3 linked regions of the Homo sapiens genome follow. The protein of the gene in region 3 interacts with the protein of the main gene of each other region in a pairwise test. Each region holds a gene or a part of one and is shown on either strand. Other genes may lie near its edges.

Region 1 (7,751 bases), on a different chromosome or scaffold from region 3:
GGTCTCAATATGCTGCGCAGGCTGGTCTCAAACTCCTGGGCTCAAGCTATCCTCTTGCCTTGGGTTCCCAAAGTGCTGGGATTACAGGCATGAGCCACAGTGCCAGCCCAATTTTTTTTTTTTTTTTTTTTTTGAGACAGGGTCTCACTCTGTCACCCAGACTGGAGCGCAGTTAACTCCATCTCGGCTCACTGCAATCTCCACCTCCCAGGTTCAAGCGATTCTTCTGCCTCAGCCTCCCAAGTAGCTGGGATTACAGGAGGGCACCACCATGCCCAGCTAATTTTTGTATTTTTAGTAGAGATGGAGAGTTTCGCCATGTTGGCCAAGCTGGTGTCCGCTCAGCCTTTTTGTTTTTTTTTTTTGTTTTGAGTTGGGGTCTCACTCTGTTGCCAGGGCTGGAGTGCAGTGGCACGATCATGGCTCACGGCAGCCTCGAACTTCTGTGCTCAGCCAGGTGAGGTGGCTCACACCTGTAATCCCAGCACTTTGGGAGGTTAAGGCCGGTGGATCACCTGAGGTCAGGAGTTCAAGACCAGCCTGGCCAACATGGTGAAAACCCATCTCCACTAAAAATACAAAAATTAACTAGGCATGGTGGCGGGCGCCTGTAAGCCCAGCTACTCAGGAGGCTGAGGCAGGAGAATTGCTTGAACCGAGGAGGTGAAGGTTGCAGTGAGCCAAGATCATGTCATTACACTCCAGCCTGGGCTACAACAGCAAAACTCTGTCTCAAAACAAAACAAAACAACAACAAAAAAAACAACTCTGGGCTCAAGCAAACCACCTGCCTCAGCCTCCTGAGTAGATGGGACTACAGCCATGTGCCACCATGCCCAGCTAGGTTTTTCTATTTTTTGTAGAGATGGGGTTCTCACTATGTTGCCCAGGGTGGTCTTGAACTCCTGGCTTCAAGTGATCCTCTGGCCTCAGCCTTCCAAAGTGCTGGGGTTACAGGCGTGAGCCACTGTGCCCAGCCTGGTCTGAAATTTGACCTGGACATTCTCAGCATAGGCCCAGGGAGAGAATAGGGGGCCCCAGGCCCATGGGGCTTGCTGAGGACACCAGTGGGGAAAGTGGTCGCTTCAGTCCGGTCAGCCTGACTCTAGTAAGCTTAACTCTTGAGATCTCTCATGCAGGTCCACGGATGTAGACACCTGCATGCTGCTTTGCCACTCACAAAGTCCATGCCCACCACAATCTCATCAGATCTCACAAAAGGCAGGCAGGACAGAGTATCATCCCCATTTTACAGCTGAGCACAAGGAGGCCAGGAATAGAGCAGGTTCATGCCCAAGGTCCCGATCAGGACCCAGGTCCCCTGCCTCCCAGCCCAGAGCTCTTCCCTCTCCCTAAAAATGCTGCCCTGGTGATGAAGCGGATGGTGACATGGGGGTGGTCAGTTTTTAAGGGCAGGGGAACAGGAGATGCACCAGAGCCTGGCTCTTCTCCTCAGCTGCTAGCCCTGTGATTGGAAGACACCCAGAAGCCTTTCCAATGCCCCATGCCAACCATTCAATCCTTCTGCCCCCACCCCCAACATGCCCACTGTCCAGGAGGACCCTGGCCAGGTCCCACAGCTGTGAGTCAGGATCAGAACAGACCCCTCCCCCACCTTCTAGAAGCTGACAGGAGACTTAAGGGGAGAAATCCAACTCCCTCAACCCTCACCCTCTGCTACCGGGCACCAACCCCAAGCTCTGCTCTCCCCCATGTGGCCTGGAAGTCAGAGAAGTTTAGGGAAGGGGGTTGGGGAGCAAGATCCCGCAGCTGCTCTGGGGACATGAGAGGAACAGTTCATTCACCCTGGGTCCCCCAGGGCTGAGGCAGCCCATCCAAGATTTGAGTTCAAAAATAAGTTGGGGCTGTCTTGGTGGCTGTGTGTGTGCGTGGGGCTCTTCTTGATCTCGAACTTACTGTCTCAGGGCCTCTGCCTCATGGGGGATCGGTAGGCTCAGAGTTTCTGTTTCCCCACAGCCTCACCTCCCAATGGTTCAGGCCCGGGTAAGTCAGGGGCTGTCCTGGAAGCTGTCAGACCACCTAGGTCTCTCTGCCCCCACTTAGTCTCAGTTTCTGGTGTCTGTCTCTGCTTCACTCAGCATCTCTGTGTCTGGGCACACTTCAGTCTCTGTCTTTAGGTTTTGGACGGCTCTGTATCTTGACTGGCTGTCCCCCAGGGGGCCCATGCCTCTGTGGATCTCAAGTCTTGGTCTCTTCTTGTCTACATGGCTGAATGTCTCAATCCCCACCACCTCCCTTTCTCTGTCTCTGCATCCAAGTCTCTTTCGCCACCTCTGCACGCCTGAATGTCTCTGTCTCTAGTCTCTGAGCGTCTCTGCAGGCCTCAGAGAGCAGATTCAGCATGAGGCCAATGACGCCCAAGCCTCAGGGCACCTCCAAGGCCCGGGGAAGGGCCCTAGGGAATGTGTTCGCTGGGGTCCCACGTATGCTTTTTCTGAAAATGCTCCACAAAGCCTAGGACGGCCCCCATGCCTCGGGTCTGTCCACCAGTAACTCTGTACGCCCGGTGTGTCCTTGTTTCAGTGGTCTCGGTAGCCTCCTGTGCCTCGAGTCCCTGCCTGTCTCGGTCTCTCGCTCCACCGGGCTTTCCGAGAACCTCAGTTTCTCCAGCGCTTCTGGTCGGTCGGTCTGTCTGTCTCTCTCCGGCTTTTCTATTTCAAACTTAGCCCCCTCCCCCGCCCAACTCTCGCTGCCGCCCCCGCCCCCGCCCCGCCCGATAGCCCGGAGGGGTCCAGTCCCGGCGGGCGCTGTCCCGGGCTCGGCGTGCCCCGGGCACCCGTGGCCAGAGCCCGGCGGGTACAGGGGACCGGGGCCGCGGCTGGCCTCAGCCCTCCGCGGGTCCCTTCGCTCCCCGGCCTGGGCGCGGGGGCGGACCGCCAGGGCTGGGAGCCGGGGTCGGCGGGGCGCTCACCTCGAAGCGGGCGGCGGGAGCGGGGAGCGCGCGGCGCAGGCGGGGCCGGGAACCGGGCGCCGCGTCCCTCGGCGGCTCCTACCTGCGGGCCGGGCCAAGCGGGGGCCGAGCGAGCTGCCGGCGAGGCTGCCGACTGCAGACGGACCGTGTGGGCGAGTGGGAGCGCGGCCCCAACCCCTCCCCGAGGAAGTGAGCGCGGGCCCGCCCCGCCCGGACCCCGCCCCCGGCCCCCCAGCCCGCCGCGGGGGCCAGACCCCGCCCCCACCTCCCTTTCGGCCGCCAGTCGGCCCGGCCCCCTCCTCCCGCCCGGCCTAACCTGGCTCTCCCAACCTTCAAGCGGCCGGGACCCCGCCCCTGTCCCCTCCCCGCAGCCTCTGTTCTCCTCCCCTCCCACCCCCCATCCCCAGCTGCCAGAGGGAGACTGCTGTATTCCATCTCAGGCCGGCGACACGAGACCCCGCAGACCATGGTCCACTGGGGGAGTCCTCTGGCCTCCTCGGATCCCCCCACCCCTTCACCTTACCCCAGGGGTGACACTCAGCCCGGCCTTAATCCAGCCTGGAGGAGGACGTTTTGACTCTGCTGTCATGAGCCTGTCAGCGGGCACCAAGGTGTTCTCTGAAAACATGGGACGAAGAGAGGACCCCTCCCCACCATAGGGCCTTGACCTCCAAAGGGTTTTATTCCACAACTTTGAGTAGCAAAAACAGGGGTAACCACCTCCCCACTTCCAGCAGCCTCCTGACACTGAGAAGTCCTGCCTTGCCTGGGTTTCCGCAGTGCCCAGGAATAGTTTTGACCTTTGAGGCCCGGGGGAGACCCTAATCCTCGGCCCCATGATCTTTGGGCTTCTAGGGTGGGGTGTGAGGAGTGTGAGAGGATGGGGCACCTCAGGGGTGGTGGAGGAGAGGGGAGGGGACCTCTGCGGTGTCTGAGCCTCTGGCTTCCTCCCTGTGTCCGTGAGGGAGGACTGGCGCCTGCTAGGGACACGAGGCCCCTCCAGGTCCTTAAGGCCACCCCCCCTGGGATCCTCAGGCTTGTCACTAGGAATAAATAGCCTCAGTCTGGAAGAGGTGGGGGAGGGAGGGAGGCAGGAGGCTCTACTGTGCTGTTTGTGGAAACAAGAGACAACAAATCAACCCCGGAATAACCTTAGCATCTAGAGTGAAGATTCAGGTGCCCACAGAGGCCTCCCCACACCCCAGGCTGGGTGTAGCAGAGCTCTCACGGAGGAACTAACACCCTCCCAGGCTGGGGCTCCTGAGAACCTTTCCGTCCCATCTCTGCATCATGCCTGGGTTCCTGGGTCCCAAGTCACCCACCAGGTCTGGTTTCCTTTCAAAATTAAATCATTGCTTGCTTATTATTGCTGTTGTTGCCTAAATGGTAAGAGCCATGAAGGCAGGGCTCCGTTTTGTTCCCCACTGCCTTCTCAGTACTTACTCCAATATCCGGCACATAATAAACATCTGATGAATGAATGGATACCAGACACTGCTTCAGTATGTATGCCCCTCTAACATCCTCGGTTTGGATCACAGGCACCTGCTATCTGGAGTCCAGGCAGTGAGCATCCAGCCCATGGATGGGGCCTTTTTCTGGGATTTTTTTTTTTTTTTTTTTTTTTTTTTTTTTTGAGATGGAGGCTTGCTCTGTTGCCCAGGCCGGAGTGCAGTGGCGCACTCTCCGCTCACTACAACCTCCACCTCCCAGGTTCAAGCGATTCTTCTGCCTCAGCCTCCCAAGTAGCTGGGACTGCAGGTGTGCACCACCACGCCCGGCTAAATTTTTTTTTTGTATTTTTAGTAGAGACGGGGTTTCACCATCTTGGCCAGGCTGGTCTCAAACTCCTGACCTCAAGATCTGATCTGCCTGCCCCAGCCTCCCAAAGTGCTGGGACCACAGGCATGAGTGACCATGCCCAGCCTCTCTGGGATGTATCTTGCAGGTGTAAGAGACTCCCAGCCCAGGGGAGTGCAGTGAAGACTACTCAGCCTTGGTGGAGTGGGTACCAAGAGGAGGTCAGCTCTGGGGGACGGGAGGGCAAAGGTGGGGAGCCTTCAGAAAGCAAGGGGTTATGAGTGAGTACAGAAGGGGCCTGATAAAAGGCAGAGTATTGGAATCTCTGTTCTTGATGCATGGCTCTAATCTCTCCTAAATAGCCTTAATGAGAGCCAGTACTTCCTGAGTTCTTTCTTTGCACCAGTCCTGAACACTTTACATATATTGACATACCTGATTATTCAATAACTTTATTAAATATATGTGCATCTATATTTGTTTGTTTTTGAGACAGTGTGTTGCTCTGTCACCCAGGCTGGAGTGCAGTGGTGTAATCACGGCTCACTGTAACCTTAACCTCCTGGGCTCAAGCGATCCTCTTACCTCAGTCTCCCAAGTAACTGGGACTACAGGTGTGGGCCACCACACTGAGCTAATTTATTTTAATTTTAATTTTTTGTAAAGGCAGGGGTCTTATTAAGTTGCCCAGGCTGGTCTTGAACTTCTGGGCTCAAGCAATCCTCTTGCCTCAGCCCCACAAAGTGCTGGGATTACAGGCATGAGCCACTATTCCTGGCCTAAATATATATTTTCATCCTCATTTTAAAGATGAGAAAATGGAGGCACAGAGAGATTAAGTAACCTGGCAAGGGCGACACAGGTAATAATGGCAAAGCTAGGATACAAATCCCAATGGTTGGCCGGGCTTGGTGGCTCTTGCCTGTAATCCCAGCACTTTGGGAGGCTGAGGCAGGAGGATTGCTTGAGCCCAACAGTTTAAGACCAGATCTGGGCCAGGCGCGATGGCTCACGCCTATAATCCCAGGACTTTGGGAGGCCAAGGCGGGCGGATCACGAGGTCAGGAGATCAAGACCATCCTGGCTAACGCAGTGAAACCCCGTCTCTACTAAAAATACAAAAAAATTAGCCAGGCGTGGTAGCAGGTGCCTGTAGTCCCAGCTACTCTGGAGGCTGAGGCAGGAGAATGGCGTGAACCCGGAAGGTGGAGTTTGCAGTGAGCCGAGATTGTACCACTGCACTCCAGCCTAGGTGACAGAGCGAGACTCCGTCTCAAAAAAAAAAGACCAGATCTGGCAACATAATGAGACCCCGATCTCTATTAAAAAAAAAAATCAAACCGACTGGGGGCGGTGGCTCACGCCTGTAATCTCAGCACTTTGGGAGGCTGAGGCAGGCGGATCACGAAGTCAAGAGTTTGAGACCAGCCTGGCCAACATGGTGAAACTCTGCCTCTACTAAGAATACAAAAATTAGCTGGTTGTAGTGGTGCATGCCTGTAATCCCAGCTACTTGGGAGGCTGAGGCAGGAGAATCGCTTGAACCCAGGAGGAGGAGGTTACAGTGAGCCAAGATTGCACCACTGCACTCCAGCCTGGGCGACACAGCAAGATTCTGTCTTGGGGAAAAAAATAAAAATAAAAAATCAAATCTGGACAGTCAGAAGTCATAGCACCCTATGCCAAAAATGAGCTTCACCATTAGGCTCTAGTATCTGTAGTCATTTAATCTCTGTGAACCTCAGTCTTCTCACTGTGAAAAGTGAATGAGTCTGCCTCACAGCATTGTTGTAAGGATTGGATGAGAGCACACAATAGATTGTCAATATGTGGGGACAGTCCCCACTTTCATGATCAAATGTTAAGGTTCAGCTACTTGGACTTGGAGTCTGGGGGCCAGAGAAAGTTAGCTCTCTGGCTTGGGCCACCTGGGCTAGGGAGAGCGGCCTAGGGGCAAGCCGCCCACAGTGAAGCTGTGTCTCCCTGTCTCAATTTCCATTCCCCAGGAGGCTCACATTTCTCTGCTCACTCTATTTTCGTTGGCCCAGGAGGACGTGCCCCAGGGAAGTCCAGGGATCAGCCACAAGGACTCCCTGTTCCTGTTCCCTATCTGTCCTCCTCCCTCCCTGGGAAACAGGTGTGTCTGAACTGGGGCTGGAAGCAGAGCCTGAGAGCTGGATGACTGGCCTTGGGTGAGTAGGATCCTGTTGTCCCTCACTCACCCTAGAGGTCCCCACACACTCTTCTTTATCTCATGCTTAGGGCACCCCTGCTGTTTTTTCACTCTGCAAGGGTTTTCAAAAGGAGGCCCTGGGTGGCTACTGACAGGCCTCTCATGGTTTCCTGTGAGTGCTGAATCACTCTCTGATGCCTGTAACCATAGGCCCTCCTTCCCCCTAGTGAGAACACAGCCTTTTTCCTCTGGGTATATTGCTCACTCTTACCTACTGGCTGCCTAGAGCTCTTGCAGGCCTCAAGGCTTGGTAGATAACCTCTTCCAAATTGCCCAGATGCTTTCTTCTATTTTTTTCTTTTTCTTTTTTTTAAGATGGAGCCTCGCTTTGTCACCCAGGCTGGAGTGCAGTGGAGCAATCTCGGCTCACTGCAACCTCCGCCTCCCAGGTTCAAGCTATTCTCCTGCCTCAGCCTCCTGAGTAGTTGGGACTACAGGCACACGCCACTATACCCGATTAATTTTTGTATTTTTAGTGGCGATGGGGTTTCATCATGTTGGCCAGGCTGGTCTTGAACTCCTGACCTCAAGTGATCTGCCCGCCTTGGCCTCCCAATATGCTATGATTACAACCATGAGCCACTGCGCCTGGCCGTCCAGAAACTTTCCTTGTGACCCCAAGCTGGACACTGAATTTGTGGGTGGAGAGGGTGAAATAAGTAAGTGACTTTCACAGAGCATGGGAGGTGGGGAGGGCAGAGCAAGAACTAATGTAGTTAAATGTTGACTGTGTGAAGGGCACCATGCCACGTGGTAGTCATTACCTCTTTCTGTCCTCACAAAAAC
Region 2 (7,241 bases), about 21 Mb from region 3:
ACAATTACCTCTAGTCCCTTCCCTGAGTTTTTAATTCTGAATTCATATCACAGAAAGAAGACTGAAGTCTGTCAACAAACCTGGGTTACAACCACTGTCTGTTCTGCAAGCCCAACAGGCTTTGTCCAAGGCCATTGTATGTTCTTCGAGTCCCTTGAATTCCTTTAAAAATCATTTACTAACCCCCTATAATCATCCACACTTCCACATCTCCCTTTCCCCTAAAAAGTAGGGAATATAACCATCTGTACCCCATTGTGCAGTATCATCACTATGTGATTTTTTTCCCCTGTGCACATTAATAAATTTGTATGCCATTTCTCCTTTTTAATCTGCCTTTGCCCTTCAGAGAGCAAAGAGGAAGTTTTCCCTTGACCCCTACACTATCCAAGACACTATCAGGACAACTGGTGAAATTCACATTGGATCTGATTATTAAATTGTAGTAACGTAGCACTCCACATTCCTGATTTTGATGACTGTATTGTGGTTATGTCGGAGCACATCTTTTTTGTAGGAAATATATACTCAAGTATATAATGAAAGATGATAGGTCACCAGATTGGAAATTTATTCTTAAATAATTTAGGAAAAGGAAAAGTTGTTTTACTGTACTTGCAACTTTTCTGTAAGTTTGAGATGCCTTGAGACGATATATATATATAAGTATATATATATTTAAACCACATCTCTCTCTCTCTCTCTCACACACATACACACACACACACACACACGCATACATATATACATATATATCGCTATTGTATCAACAACTGCAAAATCTTCTTAATGGTCAGCCATGGTCTGATACATTCTAACTCCAACTCACTTTCCCGTCCTATTTAGTCAATTCCTCAACCCAGTTCCCTAACCACACTGAACACTTGGATAGTTCCTTTTCTTTCCTCTGTCCCTCAAACTGTCACATCCTTCCTCCTCTCCCAAACTTAATCTCCATCTAATGAAATCTTACTGTTCTTCAAGGTCCATTCCAAATTTTCCCCAAGCTCCCGAAGCCTTTTCTGATTCCCCCAAAGGATGTTACTCCCCCTCCTTTATCTCCTTTGCGGCGCTTTAATTACGTGTGTACCTATGTCATTTTCCGTGACACATCAGTAAACATGTTGAGGGCTGGGACCATGTCTACTCCTCCCTGCAGACATTCAGAGCACTTTCTCAGTATAAGCTTACACACTGAAAACACTCCATTTAGAGAATTATGTGGTATCTTGACTTAAGTATTTGTTGTACTCAGGACATCACATGTATATGAAGTCCTCTTATTACATTTCAGAAGACAGAAACTGCAATGTTATTTAATTGCTTTTTATTTTTATTATTGTGACAATGCCAATATTCCAAGAGCCTGTAATAAAGGCTCTCAGCATAAATGGTCTACTATCTAACACCACCAGAACCCTTTTGGCATCTTTTGCATCTGGATACTTTTGCTCTATGCATGAGTGGGATGTATGGTCATTCCTTTTATGCAATCATGTAGTAGGCAAAACAATGGCTCCCTCAAAGATGTCCACATCTTAATCCCAAGAATCTGTGATTATGTTAGTTTATATTGCAAAGGAGAATTAAGGCTGCAGATTGAATTAAGGTTGCTAATCAGCTTGCTTTTAAATATGGAGAGCATCCTGGATTATCTGTGGGAGCCCAGTGTAATCATGAGGCTACTTAAAAGTGAAAGCGGAAGACAGAAGAAGAGTCAAGAGTGAAATGTGACCCCGGAAGAACTTTCAGAGGCGCAATGTTGCTGGCCCTGAAGATGGAGGAAGGGCTGCTGAGCCAAATAAGGTAGGTGGCCTCCGGAAGATGGAAAGAGGATTCACCCCAAGAGCTTCCAGAAAGGAAGGCAACCCTGCCAACACTTTGATTTTAACCCAGTGAGACCTCAGTAGGACTGCTACAGAATCCTAAGATAGTAAATTGTGTATGTGAGTGTGTGTGTGTGTGTGTGTGTGCGCGCGCGCGCGCGTTCCTATGTGTTTAAGCCACTAAAGCCATGTAATTTGTTATGGCAGCGAATTAAAAAAACTGATACAAATCAACATCACCGTATTTCCGTAATACAATCATATAACTGCGGTGCCAGGCCGTGTAGAATCGAATCTTCCTATATGCATGCGTGGCAGCAAAAAGAAAGGCAATAGAACGTCTGCCTGTTGTACAGACTGGAAACACAGTATTCTCCTTCGGATGTCTCCTTCAAGAAAAACCTTGCCTATTCTGACACGCCAGCCATGACTGCACAACACTGCCCCTACCAAGAATCGTTTTCTTAAGAAATCCGTTTTCCTAAGGACTATCTCCAGAGACACTCGGAGAAAACAGCGAGGGCCGGGCGCGGTGGCTCACGCCTGTAATCCCAGCACTTTGGGAGGCCGAGGCGTGCGGATCACGAGGTCAGGAGATCGTATCCATCCTGGTTAACACGGTGAAACCCCGTCTCTACTAAAAATACAAAAAAAAAAATTAGCCAGGCGTGGTGGCGGGCGCCTGTAGTCCCAGCTACTCTACTCGGGAGGCTGAGGCTGGAGAATGGCGTGAACCCGGGAGGCGGAGCTTGCAGTGAGCCGAGATCGCGCCACTGCACTCCAGCCTGAGCGACAGAGCGAGACTCCGTCTCAAAAAAAAAAAAAAAAAAAAAAAAGAGAGAAAACAGCGAGGAAACACAAATAACTTTATGTTTCAATTTCCTCAATGAAGCAAAGCAAACAAGTGACAAGGCTCGAAGCCCTGACGGCCCAGAGACTGCACAGCGGGCCCAGGAGCAGGTGCGCCCCCTCGAAGGCGGCGTGGCCTCCGCGACTCGGCTGCGGGCAGCTCCCGGGGAGCAGGGTCTCAACTCCGGCGCTGTCCCACTTCCGTCGGCGCTGAGGGCTCCCACCTCCCTTTCCACCCCCGGCTCTCCAGCCCGGGACTGCCAGCGGCGGGAGTGGCAGCCGGGGAAGGGACTCCCCACTCACCCGCGTCCGCCCGCCGAGCGCAGCTCCCCAAGGCCCAGCGCGCCTGCCCTTCCCGGAAAACAGCAGCGCCTGAAACGCCGGAACCCCGGGAGGCACTGGGAGGGGAAGGCCCGGGTTCTCGAAACTGTCGCTGCCTCCTGCAGAAGCGCCGCGGGAGAGCTGCGGGGTCTTCCTGAGGAGGTGGCCCTCGCAGGAACAGCTGGGTTCCCCGCGAAAAGAAAAAGACAGTGAAAAAGAAAACTGCTTTAACGGCGATTTTTCTTTAGCATTTAACCAATGCTCAAATACTAAACATGGTTGTCTCCAATGATTAGTCACTAACAGAAAAAAAAACTAATTTCACTTTCGATTTTTAAAAAGGGGTGGTTTTGCGGAGGAAAGCAGAAGTATACCTGAAGTTTCCGTACACACTAATTTTAGGGAACGCTTTCTAAAACCAGTTTTTTGCATGTATTTTATAAGGTATGTTGGAAAAGTGGATAGAAACCAAATAAAGTCAAAGCAGGAATCGCTCTTCATCAGATTGTAACTCTTTTGTAATTTCTTAGTCATTGTAACACTAGTTGACAAATGTTTACAGTCAGCACAAGATCGGCGTTTCTGTGTCTTTTGTAACATCCCCCGGGGCCATGAAGTTGGGAAAGCTGTGGTGTTCCTGTTGGTTTCTGTGACCCATGTCCCTTGAAAGTTTTCTTATAATCTCTTGTTTTGTTGTGGAGCTTGTAAATAAATACTTCACTAGGTGTGAACTTTTCCTTTGAAAATTCAAACATCTGGTTTATTTCAAGAACTGCAGTGTCTCTTAATCCCACACAAAGAACCACCCCACAGCTGCCCCGGCTCATAAATACAGATGTGGGAAGAAAATGAGTCAAAATTATTTCAAGGCATAAATTATAGGTTATCATGCTACCTAGTCACATATAATAACTGATACAGTGGTCTAAAATAGTTTAACAAAAGTAAAATTTCTTTGTATCAAAAAGGTTGATGGGAACCAGTTTAAAGTGGTGACATTTCTCTTTTTTTTTTTTTTTTTTGAGATGAGTCTTGCTCTGTTGCCCAGTCTCCAACTCCTGAGCTCAAGCAGTCCTTCCACCTCCACTCCCAAGTAGCTGGGATTACAGGAATTCACGACCGCACCCAGATTTTTTGTACTTTTAATTTGGGTGCTGGGGGCAGGTATCTAACTGTTTCCCAGGCTGATCTTGAGCTCTGGCCCAAGTGATCCCACCACCTCAGCCTCCTGTAAAATGGCATTTCTAAGTAAAAAAAACGACTTCTTTGTGCTTATCAGACCAGTTAGAAAATACAAAAACTCCTTCTGCTGCAACTTGAGAAAGAATTACTTTAGTTTTACCTTGAAATTTTAGAGGGAATATGAACTCTCGAGGTTATTTAGTTGAACCTCATTTCTTCTTATTTTTATTTTTTACAAGAAGATACTAAAGGACAGGACCATGGCCAGAACAGGACTAACTTAATATATTGACTCAGATTCTGTTTAAAAGGCAAATGATACAGGTGGAGGGGAAGTCTTTTTGGACACCTACATTCTAAAGCTGAGACATGTACTAACAGTCTGAATTTAACTCAGCTTCAAATCTGGTATTCTGCAAAGTGTTAGAGATCTGAAGATGAAGAGTTGGCTCCTGGACATACTATTAATAATTGTAATTGCTAACATCTACTAAGAACTCCTGGACATTTTATAAACCTTTTTGTTTTGCCAACAACAATATTAGATATAGGTATTATTCCCATTTCTTTTCACCTGTCTGAAGCAGGCAGGAAGGTATTATCCCCATTTTGCAGTTGAGGAAACTAAGGCATAAAGAGGTGACCCAAAATCAAGCAGTTAATATATGGTGACAATGATATCATACTCTACTCTCAACAATATCTCCAAACTGTGTCCTAGGGTACATGGAGAACATGGAATTTTATGGCCCAATACAATTAGGAAATGCTGCATTCTGAATCCACTTTTGGAAATTCACAATGCACATTGGCACATTAAGAGTTCCAAGAAGTATTGCAGGGAAAAATTAAAAATTTGTGCATATTAAAAATTTTAACTTTATTCAACCTTGAACTTATCAAATCAATTTGAGCGATATATTCTTTTTTTCAAGGAACAGTTATTAAAATCTTGGGGAGTTTCTGATGGGACCTTTCGAGGAATGCTCTAGTAAATTACGCCCTCTCCTAATATAAAAGTTATTTATTGATGTTATCATGCACTCAATAAATATGTTGCACATGAGCTGCAGCACTCTGTGCCTTGGATATCTCATGTAAATCTACACAGATGTGAGGTGAATATTATGTTACACATTTGTCTCCCTGACTACATGGCAATGAACTCCTCCCAGGCTTTCTATAAAGACACACACACACACACACACCAGTATTACATACAGTCTAATGTGTGTTGGAAGGGGTAGGATACCAGAAGTAGTAAAAAACAAAGGAGAGCGTAGTCCCCTCTACCTGAGGAGGTCAGGGAAGTTTCCTTCACAGAAGAGGTGAAAATTGAGTTGATTCATTAAGGTAGAGAAAGTAGACTGAGAAGAAAGATCGGGTGAAAAATCTCAGAGGGATGTGCAATGGACTAAATGTTTGTGTTCCTCCAAAATTCGTATGTTGAAATCCTAACCCCCAAGGTGACAGTATTAGGGCTGGGGCCTTTGGGAGATGATTAGGTCATAAAGGGTGGAGCCTAAATGAATGAGATTAATGCCCTTATCAAAGAGGTCCAAAGGAGTTTGTTGACCTCTTCTGCCATGTGAGGACACAGACAGAAGGTAATCTATGAATCAATAAGCTGGCTCTCACCAGACACTAGATCTGCAGGACCCTGGATCTTAGACTTGCAGCTTCCAGAACTGTGAAAAATAAATTCTGTTGTTTATAAACTACCAGTTTATGATGTTTTATTATAACAGTCCAAAAGGACTAATATAGCATAAAACAAATGGGAGGCACCAAGAGTTTAGTGATTATGCAAACTATGAGAAAGCTACCTGATATCTATTACATGATGATTCTCTTTTAAGAAAAGGCTACTACACCAAGCTTATGCTGCTGTTGCTAAGATTGTGTTGATCTGGTTTGCAGTTCATCCTTGGGGAAACTGGAACACTTATGCCCAGTATTGTGCAAGATCCTGGGGGGATACAAATGAATTCTGTAACTTCCTTCTAGTTTTCAAGAGTGTTCCCATTGGACTACATAAGTGGTAAAGGAAAATACTTACTCTTTTATCAGGCAAGCAGTACTGTATAGTTAAAAGCATGATTTTGGCCAGACATGGTGGCTCATGACTATAAACCCAGCATTTGTGGAAACTGAGGCAGAAGAATCACTTGAGTCCAGGAGTTCAAGGCTGCAGTGAGCTGTGACTGCACCACTGTACTTCAACCTGGGCAATAGCACGAGACCCTGTCAAAAAGTAAATAAATAAATAAAGCATGGTTTTGGTGTCAGAAATGGGTTTGAATTTCAATTTTTAGTTACTGAAGTTTCTCAGCTTCAATTTTCTCATCTATAAAATAAAGGTGTGGTGCATGAGATAGAGATGCATTTCAAGGACTAAACACAGTGCTCTGCCCATGGAAAGCACTCACTAAATTGTACTTGTTTCATCTTATACTACGGTGAGATTTTTTTTCAATTTTTCTCTTACATTTTCTTTATCTTTGTTCTTCCTCCCTAGAAAAGTACTTTTAAGAAATAAGGTCATTTAAAAATTTATTTTATGTTACCTGCAGTAACTGTACCTAGTGCACACTGTATAAATAGTTATTTCTAACTAGTCATTAAATACTAGAGTAGGAGTAAAATACTCTGGACCCAATGTTATAACAACCCCTTTGTATAGCTTTTCATACTCATGTGTGTGAATAAGTTTTTATAAGTGAATAAAATATTATGAGGTAGATCAAATACTTAGAAATAGAAATAAATTCAAGCAAAATAATAATAATAAAATTAAAGAATAAAGGACTTTATCTTGTCAAATCTGCCTGGACCACTGATTTATCATATAAACATAAACAATCACTTAGAAAATTTTGTTGTGTTAAATAAAGTACATAGAGAATAAAGTTGGTATCCTTGACAATGCTATAAAGAAGAACAATTAGTGTTTTGCTTATAAACTAAAGGCTCAAAAATAAACATTTATCTGTAGTATTCAAGGCTGTAAGATAGCAGTAAATCTCAATATTATATTAAGGAAATTTCTTAAAGAAAGTCTGA
Region 3 (7,821 bases):
GGATGATACCACAGATGATCTTAAGAAGCAATTTGGTTTTAAAATCTGCCCCATTTTAGAGGACAGATCACAAACTACAGGTCCAAGGACTTCAGTGTATAAATGAATGTATTTTAGAAAACAGAGCCTATGCAGTGAGCTGAGATCGCATGACTGCAGCCTGGTGACAGAGAGAGACTCTGTCTCAAAAAAAAAAAAAAAAAAAGAAAAAAGAAAAGAAAAAAGAACCTAATTGTGTTATTACTATACTTAATGGCATTTGAATATAAAGTTCAGATATCTTACTAAAAACCAAATTTATAAAGGAGTTATGGGGGAATCAGCCACATTTTAACATATGTCCTCTTTTGCAGTTCCCTGTCCTTACTAAGATGCCCCTTCTAAGAGCAGGGGGCATGGTGTAGAGAGAAGGACGAGGTCACTGGTGTCAGGCGCAGCGTGTCACTGCAGATAACACAGTGCCCTCTGGACATCGTTCCTCATTCAGAATGGGCGGGGCTGGGGGAGTTGCTGCTTACTCTGCGGGGTTGAACTGGAGATGGCAGATGATGACTGTGAAGTGGGTGCCTGCTGCAGGCAGCACGCTGAAAGGCACCCATGGCAAGGAGCCAAGCCCAGCTAGCTGACATGGGCTGTGTAGCAACTGGGCACAGCAGGGGCCCTGGAACCAGGCTTGGCCCTGTTGTCCTGCTTGCAGCAGGGACAGTCCATGAGTGGGAGTCCCAAGGAGGTCTGTAAACATCTGTATGAAATGAACCTTACAAAACTCTGCAAAGCCTCTTAAGCCTTTCTCACCCAGAACCAAACTGCCTACCTTGTGCATGTCCTCCTTCTCCTGCCACACCATGCGGTGCTGCTTCTCTGGCCCCCGTAGCTGCTGTGTGAAATCTTGTCGAGGCGCCGCCTTGTCCTCAAGTTGTCACTCAAGCCTGTTTGAATATGAGCAAAAGAGGAAATAATTTGTGTTCCTTTCTGTGTAGCAACTATATGTAAACGTTGTTAGCTGACTTATTGAAATGATTTAATAATTCACAGGACTGTTTTTTTTAGTGCTGTATACTAAATAAAATACACAAGGCAGCAATACTTAGGGGCCAGAAACACTGTTTACTGCAAGTCAATTATGGAATCATAACTTACAGTAAAAATGGGCATGTCCAAGGCTCAATTTTTCTTTTGTCATTTACAGTAGAATAGTTTGTTGCTAATTTTCTACACTGTCTACTGGGAATATGTGTTACTTTTATAATCAGAAAAATAAATATTGCAGTCACGTAGCATATAATGATGTTTCGGTCAACAACAGACAGCATATATATAAGAGTGGTCCCATAAAGTTATAATACCATATTTTTCCCGTAGCTTTTCTGTGTTTAGATACATAAATCCTTGCTGTACAGGTCTGTAGCCAAGGGGCTATATGCTATACCATGTGGCCTAGGTGTGCAGTAGGCTGCACCACCTTGGTTGGTCTAAGAACACTCTGTGATGTTCTCACGTCAACGAAATTACCTGATGATGCATTGTCGAGAACGTATCCCAGCCGCTGAAGGATGCGTGGCTGGACTGAAGAGCACCGTGTGATGTGGGCTACAGCTGAGTTCTGTGCATGATGTGGTTGGAGCCCTGAGGAAGGGGGGCTATGGACTGAATGGTGTCCCCCCCCGCCAATATTAGACGCTGAAGCTCTAATCCCCAATGTGACTGTAGTTGGGGACAGGGCCTATAAGGAGATGATGAAGGTTAAGTGAGGTCATAAGGGTGGGCCCTGATCCAACAGGATTCATGTCCTTATAAGAGACCAGAGCGCTTGGATGCTACCTCCCCGTGGGAGGACATGGTGAGAAGGTGGCTGTGTGCAAACCAGGAAGAGAGGCCTCTGGGGCTTTTAGCCTCCAGAACTGTGAGAAAATAAAACCCTGCTGTTTAAGCCACTCAGTCAGTGGTATTTTTTAGGGTGCCTGGGGCTAATACAGAAGGATTCACCCTCCTGGGGAGAAGGGGCCAGTGGCCTCCTCTGATTTTCCCAGCTGTCGGCAGAACTCCGTCCCTGCCCCTCCTCCTTTTGCCAAAGCATCTTTCTAAGGGAAGACCTGATTGCACTGTTCAGAGGTCCCCAAAGGCCACAGAAAAGTCTCAACTCCTGGACCTCGTGAGTCCCATCCCACTGGGGGAGCTCCCTCTCTCTTCTCTGCTCTCCTCTCAGGAGGGAAAGTTAAGGGCCTGCTTGGCCACCCTCCAGGGAGATGACATGGTGGGATGCTGCATCCTGGTGATGAGCTGGGGGTAAGCCAGCACGTCTCCTCCAGGGCTTTCCCCAGAACTGAATACACACTAAGATGATCTTTAGGGATGGAAGACTCAAACTGGGAAGAATCACACACCTGTAGTCCCAGCCTACAAGGAAGGCTGAGGCTTGGGGATCACTTGAGGCCAGGAATTTGAGTCCAGCCTGGTCAACATAGTGAGAACCAGTGTCAAAAAATAAATAAATAAAAAGGAAGAATCAGGTGACTGTTCCAAAGTCCTCCAAAATGGGTATTGGGTCCTGACTCTGCTCTTCCCGGGACAGGGGTGTGCCTTCCCCTTTCCTGTTGGCCATAAACCCACTCCCTCTCACCAAAGAAATAAGAAAAAGTGTTCACAGCACTTTGAGTTATGTGAGGTGTGCAGAATTTATCAGGCCCAGAGAGACAGGAATATGGACTTCAGTCACACGCCTTGTACTCATGCCCTGGGGTGACTGTTTAAAGGCATTTTGTTCCTGACTAGCTCAACCCATTATCTTCCTGTTCCTGGAATTTGTGATACCAAAGACAATGTAGACAATGTAGAGACAATAAATAGCTTTTTTTTTTTTTTTGAGACAGAGTCTCGCTGTGTTGCCCAGGCTGGAGTGCAGTGGTGTTATCTCGGCTCACTGCAAGCTCCACCTCCCGGGTTCATGCCATCCTCCTGCCTCAGCATCCAGAGTAGCTGGGACTACAGGCACCTGCAGCCATGCCCGGCTAATTTTTTGTATTTTTAGTAGAGACGGGGTTTCACCGTGTTAGCCAGGATGGTCTCGATCTCCTGACCTCGCGATCCGCCTGACTTGGCCTCCCAAAGTGCTGCGATTACAGGCGTGAGCCACCACGCCCTGCCTTCTTTTTTTTTTTGAGATGGAGTTTTACTCTGTTGCCCAGGCTGGAGTGCAATGGCATGATCTTGGCTCACTGCAAACTCTGCCTCCTGGGTTCAAGTGATTATCCTACCTCAGCCTCCCAAGTAGCTGGGACTATAGGTGCTCACCACCATACCTGGCTAATTTTTGTATTTTTAGTAGAAACAGGGTTTCATCATGTTGGCCAGGCTGGTCTCGAACTCCTGACCTCAAGTGATCCTCCTACCTTGGCCTCCCAAAGTGTTGGGATTACAGGTGTGAGCCACCACGCCTGGCCCAATAAATAGCTTACGTTATTTTAATATAAATTCCTCAGGCTAGGCCAGCCGAGGTAGGAGGATCCCTTCAGGTCAGGAGTTCAAGACTAGCCTGGACAACACAGCAAGACTTCTCTAATTTCAAATTCTTGGTAAACAACTTAGGAACTGCCTCTTCTTTTCCTTTAAAAACCCACTTATAACTGCTGCTAATATTTTAAGACAACTTGCATCTCCAGGGTTGCACTTCTCAAACTTGGCCCAAATAAACTATTTTTTTTTTCAAGATGGAGTTTTGCTCTGTCACCCAGGCTTGAGTGCAGTGGCGTGATCTCAGCTCACTGTAACCTCTGCCTCCCGGGTTCAAGGGATTCTCCTGCCTCAGCCTCCTGAGTAGCTGGGATTACAGGCGCATGCCACCATGCCTTGCTAATTTTATTTTTTGTAGAAACGGGCAAGGTGGGACTCACCACGTTGCCCAGGCTGGTCTCGAACTCCTGACCTGAAGCAATCCTCCTGCCGTGGCCTCCCAAAGCACTGGAATTACAGGCATGAGCTGGTGTGCCTGGCCCAACCTCTCCACTTACGTTAATTTTGCCTCCTTTCTTCCTTTTTTTTTTGAGACAGAGTCTGGCTCTGTTGCCCAGGCTGGAGTGTGCTGTGGCCCAATCTCGGCTCACTGCAACAACTGCCTCCCAGTTTCAAGCGATTCTCCTACCTCAGCCTCCCGTGTAGCTGGGATTACAGGTGCCTACCACCAGCCAGGGTAATTTTTGTGTTTTTAGTAGAGATGGGTTTTCACCATATTGGCCAGGCTGGTCTCGGGAACTCTTGACCTCAAGTGATCCACCCGCCTCGGCCTCCCGAAGTGCTGGGATTGCAGGCGTTAGCCATCGCGCCCGGCCCGTTTTCTCCCTTTGGGTCAGAAAAGTGATTGAATCCTGCCACTTCCCGGGTGCTGGGTGGGAACAGGGAAGAGGGGGATAATTGCGGTGCTGCTGTGACTTGGGTAGATGGCGGCAAGGCCTCTCAGAGGTGGCCTTGTTTGCAAAGATCTGAATTAGGCAGGGAGAGGAGCAGGCCTGGGGCAATCAGGGAGGGGCAGTGGCACACTGGGAGCAAGGCAATGTTCCGCGACCCACAGAGGCAGCGCAGTAGCTGTTCCAATCCTGGTCGGAAGACACCCCGGAAATGCCTCAGCAACCGCGCAGCCTTTGATGACCCCGCTGCCTTCCCGCCAATCCTGCATCCAATCAGAGAGCATCCCCACTACACGTGTTGAGCAACGGCCAATCAGAACTGGGATCCGGCCCTCGGCCTGCCTCCCAGGAACTCCGAGCCAATGGCGGCCTGGCACCGGCAGGCCAATCCTGTGCGGCGCGCGTGGGCAGGTCATTGCAGTTGGGCGCTCAGCAGCTGTGGCAGCCGGTTGAGGTCTGGAAGTAGCGTTGGGCTGAAGCAGCGGAGTTCGCCATGGTAAGACCCGGGTCACTCCCGCCCCGCAGATGCCCAGGCAGACGAAGTTGGCCTCGGGTGGACAGAGGGACGTTGTTGCGGGCCTGGGCGCTGAGAGGAGGCCAGAGAAGGACGCAGGGTCTAGTGCGGGACAGGAGGACACGGGATCGTTTCCTGGATCTGCAGGTCCCAGGGCAGGGACGGCGGCTTTTGTTTTAGATGAAGCTGCCGGCCTTTAGTGGACGGGGACCATTGACGGTATCCCGTCCCCCAGAGAGCAAATAGTGGCGTCGCCTCCTGAAGACAGGAGGGCGCTGCTCCCGCTTCACACGTCTTTGTGCTACTGGAAACAGCTGAGGAGCTGCAGGAGCCTTCGGTGACGGGGGTTGGGGCTGTGGACATTGGTCAGATGAGGAATTAAGGCTCAGACGCTGCTGCAACATTGCCTTGTTCACCTAAAGGCAACCGTTAGGCCAGGCGCGGCGGCTCACGCCTGGAATCCCAGCCCTTGGGGAGGTGGAGGCGGGCGGATCCCCTGATGTCTGGAGTTCAAGATCAGCCCGACCAACATGGCGAAACCCAGTCTCTACAAAAAAATACTAAAATTACCCGGGCATGGTGATGCGAGTCTGTGGTTCCAGCTACTCGGGAGGCTGAGGTGGGAGGATCAGCCGAGCCTGGAACTTTGAGGCTGCAGTGAGTCGTGATGGCGCCAGTGCACTCCAGCCTGGGCCACAGAGACCCTGCCTCAAAAAACCAAACAAAAAAAGCAGCCCATTAACATAACAGATTCCCAAGTCCCAAGTCTGAATAGCTGTGATTTGTCAGTTATCCTTTTTTTCCTTTCTTTTTCTTTTTTCTTTTCTTTTCTTTTTTTTTTTTTTTTGAGACAGCACTCAATAAATGCTCTGTTGCCCAGGCTGGAACACAGTTGCAAGATCACGGCTCCCTGCAGCCTTGAACCCCTGGCTTCCAGCAGTCCTCCCGCCTCAGCCTTCCGAGTAGCTGGTACTACAGGTGTGTGCCACCACACCTGGCTAATTTGTAAATTTTTCATAGGGACAGGGACTCACTATGTTACCCAGGCTGGTCTCAAACTGGTCCCAAGTGATCCTCTCACCTCAGCCTTCCAAAGTGCTGGGATTACAGGAATGAGCCACCACACCCAGCTTGGCAGAGTTTAAAGAAACCACCAAAGGACAGTGCAGTGTCCCAGCACTGATGATGTCTGGGAGCCATTACACCCGTAGGCTTCAAGGGGTAGAGAGAGGGCGTGGTTACAAGAAATTAGGAGGGTAGTTTTATGAAGAGGGCAGCCTGCCAAAAGTGTAGCCTTGAGAGGGATTCAGGTCACCCACAGCAGTTGAGCAGGAAGGGGCCAAGGAGGGAGTACCCTGGCACTGCTTTCCTCCAGCCCCCCAGTATCCCACTGCTGCCTGCCATTGACCAAACCAGCAAGAAGCCAGAGGGCGAGGAAGGCCTCTGATGCTGTTCTCAAGGGTCAGCCTTCGAGAGCACAGAGCAGGTGGTGAATGATGGACGGGGTAGAACTGGGGGGCAGAGAGAGGACACACACTGAGCACCTGGGCTTGGACCATGGTGACCTGGGACCTACTCTGTATTTCCTTACCCAACCCGACTACCTTATCCTTTGATCAGGACATAATCAAAAACTGCTACTTATTCTTCAGAGAATTACTGTGACGGGCTATAATGTGGGGTTGATTATTGACATTAAATGGCTTCCAAGTTTTAAAATAACCTAAGTTTTGTGTAGTGGCAAACAGGTTCTAGGGCTACTTCTAGAACTTACTAGCTAGTATGGTTTACAGCAATTAGTTTTCACAGCGATAAAGGGATCAGTCACTAACCCTCCTAGGAAATATCGATTGTGAAAGCGCCAGATACTGAAGCACTATATAAATATTAAATTAGAATATTTTGCATGCCATATAGTTTCAAGTTGCCTTGAAATGAATGGGTTCACATTTATGTTCCGGTTCACAGCGCGAGTGTATCTCTATCCACGTGGGGCAGGCGGGTGTCCAGATCGGCAATGCCTGCTGGGAACTGTACTGCCTTGAACATGGAATTCAGCCCGATGGTCAAATGCCAAGTGATAAAACCATTGGTGGCGGGGACGACTCCTTCAACACGTTCTTCAGTGAGACTGGAGCTGGCAAGCACGTGCCCAGAGCAGTGTTTGTGGACCTGGAGCCCACTGTGGTCGGTAGGTGCCTGGGCACTGGATGGCAGCTTTCCTGAGAGGGTGGGAGAGCATTGGTAAAGCCCCGTGTGGGCTCCTTTGAATCCTCCTGCTGAAAGGATGGGATAGACAGGCATATGCCCATGGCATTGTTAGGAGAGAAACTGAAAGGTTTGTGATGAAAGTGTCTGTGAGACTCGGCTCCTAATTTAGGAAAACCTGACCTACAGGGAAAAGCTGCTTTGCCAGCAGTAAGATGGGCTGTGAAGAGATTCCCTCATGGCTGCCTCAGCCCTGCTCAGGTGGCCCTGCCTGCAGGGTGCAGTGGCATTGGTTCCCTCCCGAATGCTGTGCATTCTCTTATGCTGGTGCACGAGAGTCTTGACCTGCATCTTAGGCATAGAAGGTAAGTACAGAACAGTCATTTGCTTCCTTCAGATTCGCAGCCTGAGGTAGTTTCCAAGGAGAGCTACAAAGAGGCAGCACCTTTCAGTGGCCCCCCAGGAGATGACAGCATCACCTGAAAGCCTGTGGGACCCAGGTCATCCAGGGTGCCCTGATGGGACTGCCCTGCAGAAGTCACACTGACCTGGTGACTGCCCAGGTTGTAAGAGTTTTTAACTTACAGCCTTTGATGTAGCTACACGTAGGAAAGAATTATGTACCTGAGTAGGAGTGCAAGAGCTTATTTCCTTTCACTGGGAACTGGTCGTGCTGACATTTATACCACAAGCTGAGTT

The links.
Region 1: the proteins of TUBA3E (region 3) and FHL3 interact in binary tests that used the Homo sapiens proteins (3 or more experiments, as listed by UniProt).
Region 2: the proteins of TUBA3E (region 3) and NMI interact in binary tests that used the Homo sapiens proteins (3 or more experiments, as listed by UniProt).

What each region holds. Positions count from the first base shown.
Region 1 is NC_000001.11:38,002,425-38,010,175, forward strand, and holds the start of FHL3 (four and a half LIM domains protein 3), read right to left. Parts: upstream 3,091-7,751; 5' UTR 2,933-3,090; intron 1-2,932. UniProt on the Homo sapiens protein: Recruited by SOX15 to FOXK1 promoters where it acts as a transcriptional coactivator of FOXK1.
Region 2 is NC_000002.12:151,286,615-151,293,855, forward strand, and holds the start of NMI (N-myc-interactor), read right to left. Parts: upstream 3,055-7,241; 5' UTR 2,979-3,054; exon of another isoform or gene 2,277-2,978; intron 1-2,276. UniProt on the Homo sapiens protein: Acts as a signaling pathway regulator involved in innate immune system response.
Region 3 is NC_000002.12:130,195,433-130,203,253, reverse strand, and holds the start of TUBA3E (tubulin alpha-3E chain), read left to right. Parts: upstream 1-4,814; 5' UTR 4,815-4,893; coding exon 4,894-4,896; intron 4,897-6,882; coding exon 6,883-7,105; intron 7,106-7,821. UniProt on the Homo sapiens protein: Tubulin is the major constituent of microtubules, a cylinder consisting of laterally associated linear protofilaments composed of alpha- and beta-tubulin heterodimers.